Linked DNA regions of Homo sapiens. Each later gene encodes a partner of the first gene's protein in a complex. Each region holds a gene or a part of one and is shown on either strand. Other genes may lie near its edges.

The links. The genes of interacting proteins can lie anywhere in the genome.
Region 2: PPP2CA (region 1) and STRN3 share a complex: the UniProt entries of both Homo sapiens proteins name them as parts of the core of STRIPAK complex.

What each region holds. Positions count from the first base shown.
Region 1 is NC_000005.10:134,198,574-134,202,073, reverse strand, and holds part of PPP2CA (serine/threonine-protein phosphatase 2A catalytic subunit alpha isoform), read left to right. Parts: intron 1-52; coding exon 53-226; intron 227-999; coding exon 1,000-1,089; intron 1,090-1,566; exon of another isoform or gene 1,567-1,577; coding exon 1,578-1,739; intron 1,740-2,869; coding exon 2,870-2,988; intron 2,989-3,500. UniProt on the Homo sapiens protein: Catalytic subunit of protein phosphatase 2A (PP2A), a serine/threonine phosphatase involved in the regulation of a wide variety of enzymes, signal transduction pathways, and cellular events.
Region 2 is NC_000014.9:31,019,880-31,023,379, reverse strand, and holds part of STRN3 (striatin-3), read left to right. Parts: intron 1-3,500. UniProt on the Homo sapiens protein: Calmodulin-binding scaffolding protein which is the center of the striatin-interacting phosphatase and kinase (STRIPAK) complexes.

The DNA of each region.
Region 1 (3,500 bases):
CATTGGTTTTTGAAAGAGCTAGTTGTTTATGTTTTGCATTTTATTGTTTTAGGTTCGTTACCGTGAACGCATCACCATTCTTCGAGGGAATCATGAGAGCAGACAGATCACACAAGTTTATGGTTTCTATGATGAATGTTTAAGAAAATATGGAAATGCAAATGTTTGGAAATATTTTACAGATCTTTTTGACTATCTTCCTCTCACTGCCTTGGTGGATGGGCAGGTATGTGGATCTAAAACTCATTGCTGATTATTTCAGAGAATCTGCTTTCTTTAGTGTTCAGGTGCTTATGACTCTTTCCACTCTTAACACCCCTTTGGGGATATTTTTTAATAGATATTGATAGCATTCATTCAAACTTAAAAAAAATTTAATTTGACAAATGTGTCCAACTTTTTTAAGTGCATTATTCTTTATATCAGGCACTGAACTGTATGGTGGGATCACAGGGGTGGGTGATGTAGCCCATTTACCCTCTCAGACTGTTTTTGGACAAGTCTGGGAGATGTAAGGAGCTAATTATTGGCCTAGGTAGATGTGCACACAAAAGAACTTACAATAAAATTTTATGAGTATGAAGATACTAGTCTCTGGCAAAGGGCAGGAGTGATATCCAAGAAGTTTTCTCAAAGGAGCTGTTTGAAGTGGAGTCTGGTTGTGACAGCGATGGTCTATTAGGAAGAACAGGAGTGTACTCAATAGTTCAGAGTGGGCTGGAGCAAAGATGAACCCTGCAAAGTCAAGTCTCATTCAGGCAGAGCACAGAAACACCAGAGGGGCCAAGTGATGGGGGTGCCCAGCTCATTTTTTAAAATTTTTGTAGAGACACAGGGTCTTGCTGTGTTGCTCAGGTTGGTCTCAAACTCCTGGCCTCAAGCAGCCCTCCTGCCTCAGCTTCCCAAAGTGCTGGGGTTACAGGCATGAGCCACTGTGCCCAGCCAAGAATGTTTACAAATTTTTTAGGTGAGGTTAACCTTTTAAACCACTCTTTTCAGATCTTCTGTCTACATGGTGGTCTCTCGCCATCTATAGATACACTGGATCATATCAGAGCACTTGATCGCCTACAAGAAGTTCCCCATGAGGTATGACTTTTATTTGATAAAATTCTTTCAGAAAACTTATTAGGGAGTGGAGAAGTTTAATTGTAAGTTCATTAGATGTATTCTCTCATATAATTCTCAAAAACAACTTGAGGTGTGAGCACTCTTGTCTGCCCTGTTGTTCAAAAGAAGCTGACATTAAGAAACCTGCCAAGATCACAACAGCTGTGAAGCTGGGCTTATTAGGACCTGGGTTGTCTGTCTTAGACTCTGAAATTTGCATAATATAGGCAGATTAATTAGGGCATGTTGCTGCTGGGTCCCATGGATGTCAGCTGTGTCTCATAAAGTCTGCTGGAAAATACATCTTATTTGATGCAGATGTTTGACTTCAACTGCACAGTCTATTAGCATTGTCCACAAACATCACTCAAAAAGGGTGGCTTAGGGTGCTGCTTCTGATGAATTACTCAAATAATGTGTTAACCATGTTTGTAAAAGGCATTTTATAACTTGAAGTTATTTTTTAGGGTCCAATGTGTGACTTGCTGTGGTCAGATCCAGATGACCGTGGTGGTTGGGGTATATCTCCTCGAGGAGCTGGTTACACCTTTGGGCAAGATATTTCTGAGACATTTAATCATGCCAATGGCCTCACGTTGGTGTCTAGAGCTCACCAGCTAGTGATGGAGGTATGCTGTGTTCTCTGAAATATGACTTGTTTTTTTAGTAAACTTAAGGAAAGAAGATATTAGGGAGTTTTAAATTAATGACATTTGTGAGAAATTCCATCTATTCCTTCTGATGAGTTTATCATTATAGCCTGAGCCTTTTCAGTAGATGCACACTACTAGAATTAAAAGCTCAAGCTTTTGATTACAATGAATCCATTAACATGTTTTCAGAGAAATCTGAATGACTAGGAAGTACTTGAGATTTAAGAGTGGGAAAGTAAGATATAGGGAGTTGGTGTGCATGTATGATATTTTATGATCCCAATGTTATTTCGTATATTTAATGTATGTATGTAGGAGAGACTGGAAAGAAATACACGAAAATGTTTTAAGTGGTCCTTTGGATGCTAGGATTACAGGTGATTTGAAAGAAGGGAAAGAGGCAAAGGTTCTTGACATGGCACACTGATTAGAATATTTTTAAAATAAGGTCCTAATTAGATTAATACTAGTACAACTCTGTGGTTATCAATAAAATCTGACTTTGCTAAAGGTAAAGAAATTGTGAACAATACTAAACAAAAAGTAACAAAAGTAGCTCATGCATTCAGGTGGATGGACTTTGAGGAAATGAGGCTGGAGATCCTAGAGGCATATTGCATTTGTTCCTGGGCAGTGACCAACTTAACAGGCCTTTACCTGTGACTGACAAAATTGGTAAGGTTCTGGTCTCCAGGATTAAGTATCTACTTCTCTAGGGAATGGCCACTTAAATACTTATTCTTAAATCATGTTTTAAGGCCACTGCAAGAGAAGAGGCTAATGAGACATTGTCATTTACAGCAAGGCAGATACATGAGAAGTATTTCATTCTTTGGTGGTTGCTGCTGTTTGTTAAAGCCTTTTTTTTTTTAAAGTACTAAAAAAAAAACAAGTTTTGTAATTAGGGGGAAAATAAATACATGTGTACCTTACAGGTTGTATAAAGTACAGGAGATTATTAAGTCATCCAGAAAAAAAGCATTAACATTTCTTAAGCCCCTTTGGCAGGGGTGGGAATGAGTAGAGATTTTTTTCTCTCTTGAGTGAAGTAACATTTAGTTGAATTGAGGGAGTAAAGTAAGATTTTTGTCTCCTTTTCCTTGCAGGGATATAACTGGTGCCATGACCGGAATGTAGTAACGATTTTCAGTGCTCCAAACTATTGTTATCGTTGTGGTAACCAAGCTGCAATCATGGAACTTGACGATACTCTAAAATACTCTTTGTAAGTAATTCTACCTGAACATTTTCTTGCATTACTGAATATGTAGGGTTTTGGTTTATTTATTTTGAGAGAGAGGGTGTCACTATATTGCCCAGTCTTGTCTCGAACTCCTAGGCTGAAGTGATCCTTTCACCTTGGCCTCCTAGAGTGTTGGGGTTACAAGTATAAGATACAGTGCCCAGCCTGAATACATAGTTTAAATGTGAGGTTTAAGAGTTTAAGGGGGCCAGGCGCGGTGGCTCATGCCTGTAATCCCAGTACTTTGGAAGGCTCGGGTGGATCACCTGAGATCAGGAGTTCGAGACAAGCCTGACCAACATGGTGAAACCCCTTCTCTACTAAAAATACAAAAATTAGCCCAGCATGGTGGCGCCTGCCTGTAATCCCAGCTACTCAGGAGGCTGAGGCAGGAGAATGGCATGAATCCGGGAGGCAGAGGTTGCAGTGAGCCAAGATCGCGCCACTGCGTTCCAGCCTGGGCAACAGAGCGAGACTTCGTCTCAAAAAAGTGT
Region 2 (3,500 bases), on another chromosome or scaffold:
GAACCAAACTAAAGGATCACATCTTAAAGCTCTTCTGTCTCTGATTCTTCCTTACCTTAGACTCAGGTAAAGCATTGTTAGTAAGGTCATAGGACAGTGGTTTCTTAACTTTTATATAACATGAATTACCAAAATTCCACAGACAGTCCATTTTCTTCAAGCCCTAGATCAATCCAGATCTCCAGAGGATAAGAGGCCTGCATATTTTTTAGAGTTCTACAAGTGATTCTTTCTTCACAGTAGTGCCTGTTAAAGAGAAAAATTACTACACTACACTTTTCTTTTTTGTAATTTCATAGTAGATTCATTAAAATCTTGTCATGGAAAAGACACTAGGATTTGCAAATTACTATTCCAGACCAGCTTTTGAAAACCCTGAAAATGGAAAATTCAGGAGATTCCCCCCTTAAAAATGAAGAAATCAAGTAAGTCTAAGCAAAATATCTCCTACTAACTTAAGGATCTTTAAGCAGCAACATCTATCATGTTACGACTTCTAAAAGTTAGAAACTGCCATTTAATCAGCACTATAACCTCATGAGGTGAGTATTCCTGTTTTACAGGTGAGGAGACAAATTTAGGTAGGTTAAATCATTTTGCCAAGGTCACCTAGCCATAAAGTATTGCAGCTGAGATTTGAACCCAAGTCTGTCTGATTCCAAAGCCTGTAGTCATGTTACCACTCTTGTAACCATTATGTTATACTGTCTTAGCTCTTTTTTATAGAGTGGAATCTGACTTGTAATTCTTCATCTAGTATTGCGTGGCCCACACCACTTGAGTACATTTCAATAAAGTTTTATTGAGCGCCTGTGATGCTGCTGCAAGGCATAGTTTATATATATTGCTAATGTGTCCTTATATTTTTCTTTATAGTTTGTATGTAGTAAGTGGATTTTGGGTATATACAAAATGCTTGTTTGCCAAGTGTAAAAATATGACATAGCTAATACAAGAAAATGTAGTCAAAGAGTTTATGTTCTTTTTTTTTTTTTTTGAGATGGAGTCTCGCTCTACTGTCGCCCAGGCTGGAGTGCAGTGGCACCATCTTGGCTCACTGCAAGCTCTGCCTCCCAGGTTCACGGCATTCTCCTGCCTCAGCCTCCCCAGTAGCTGGGACTACAGGTGCCTGCCACCACGCCCAGCTAATTTTTTTGTATTTTTAGTAGAAATGGGGTTTCACCGTGTTAGCCAGGATGGTCTTGATCTCCTGACCTCGTGATCTGCACACCTTGGCCTCCCAAAGTGCTGGGATTACAGGCGTGAACCACCGCGCCCGGCCGACAGTGATTTTTCATAAAGGTGTTCCCTTTGTTCTGGGATTTTTAGCCTTCATACATTTTTACTGTTAGGCATTTCCTTTTTCAGATGATGGTGATAATAGTTAAAAAAATTTTATTGATAGTATTAAGGGAGTCCACTACCTTGTGTCAGATTCCCTGTTTCTTTTTGAAGCCCTTGAAATGAAGTTTAGGGACCACTGATCTAGAATTCTCTTTATGCTCCTCCACTACCCATTAACCCCACTCTGTAGTCTGCCTTTTCGCTTTCTTCTCTCCTCCCTTCTAAACACTTCGTAGAACACTATGTTTTCTGTTCATGATTGACCTTCAAATTGCCAAATCCTTTGGCCTTATAAACCGTATGTACTTAACCAACACTCTGTTGTTAACAAATCCTTCAAAACTGTTTTCTTTTGCTTCCGCTCTGTTTTTCCTGTCATCCACTTATCACTTTTCTTCATATGTTTTCTTTCTTTTGTTCCCAGTTGTTATTATGTGGGGTTCTGGTTCTATTTTATGTTCTCACTGTATATTCAGAATCAGATTTTTAGCTACCATGTACCATCTTAATAATACCTAGCATTTATTTACTCTTTCCTAATTGTTATTTCAGTGCTTCAGTATTTCAGTATTCATTTAATTCATTCAGTATTCATTTAATTCTCAAAACAACTCAGTGAGGTTGATACAGGTATAATTGGTGTCTTTTTTTTATTTTTTCTGACACTGGCATATCGAGGCCCAAAGGTTAAGTAATCTATGCAACTAGGAGGCAGTAGAACTGGGATTTAAACTTAGACTGCCTGTAGAGGCCATGTTCTTAACCACTACTAGATTTTTGGCGTCCAGATGTCCCTTGTATTTCTAACTTCCGTTTAGTTTTTCTACCTCAAATTCAATACATCCATTCAGTTAATCTCAAGTGCCTGCCTCTTTCCCTTGACAAAACACACTTGCTCATTCTTTATTCCTTGCCACATTAAAGTTAACACTATCCTCCCCATCGCTAGTACTATAGAGGTCATTGAACCTTCCCCCTGCGTATGGCCTGTGAGTTTTATTGATTCCAGCATGATTATTTGGTGATATTTGAGTGCGATTTTGTGCTAGATCCTGGGTGTATAATGATGTATGAGACACAGACTTTGTCCTCAGGGAGCTTATACTCTAGAAATAATTTTTTTTTTTTTCAAGAGAGCGTCCTACTCTGTTGCCGAGGCTGGAGTGCAGTGGTGCCAACATGGCTTACTGTAGCCTCAGGCTCCCGAGCTCAACTGATCCTCCTGCTGCAGCCTCCCGAGTAGGTGGGACTACAGACATGGACTATCACACCAAGCTGTTTTTATTTTTAGTTCAGGTGGGTTCTCAGTTTGTTGCCCAGGCTGGTCTTGAACTCCTGGGCTCAAATGATTCTCCCACCTCATCCTCCCAAAGTCCAAGTATTGGGATTACAGGCATGAGCCATCATGCCTGGCCAATAAAATGTTACAACAAATTAGCAGAATGCTGAGAGAATAAATGGTGATAGGAAACCTGTATATGTAATGGAGTTTCAGATAATACCTAATATTTATTGAGCACTTTCTTTTTTTTTTTTTAGAGACAGTTTTCGCTCTGTCACTCAGGCTGGAGTACAGTGGTGCTATCTCAACTCACTGCAACCTCCACTTCCTGGGTTCAGGCAGTTCTCATGCCTCAGTCTTCTGAGTAGCTGGAATTACAAGCACCCACCAACACGCCCAGCTAATTTTTGTATTTTTTGTAGAGATGGAGTTTCACCATGTTGGCCAGGCTGGTCTTGAACTCCTGACCTCAAGTAATCCGCCTGCCTTGGCCTCCCAAAGTGCTAGGATTACAGGCATGAGCCACTGCGCCTGACCTATTGAACACTTTCTATATGGTTGACATTATTTTTGGTTCTTCAGTACATTTAATTCTCATAAAGTTCCTAAATGTATACTTCTAGATCTGAAGTATCGGGAATACCTAATTGTACAAAGAACATGCCAGTTGGAAGCTACAGCATTTAGCAGAAGTTCTAAAGTAGGAAAGAGCTTCATTTAAACTGTGAACTGGCCAGGTGTGGTGTCTCACGCTTGTAATCCCAGCGCTTTGGGAGGTTGAAATGGGAGGATCACTTGAGCCCAGGAGTTGGAGACCAGCCTGGGCAACAGTGAGACCCTGTATCTAAAAAAGAAAAAAAAAAAAAAGAAAATG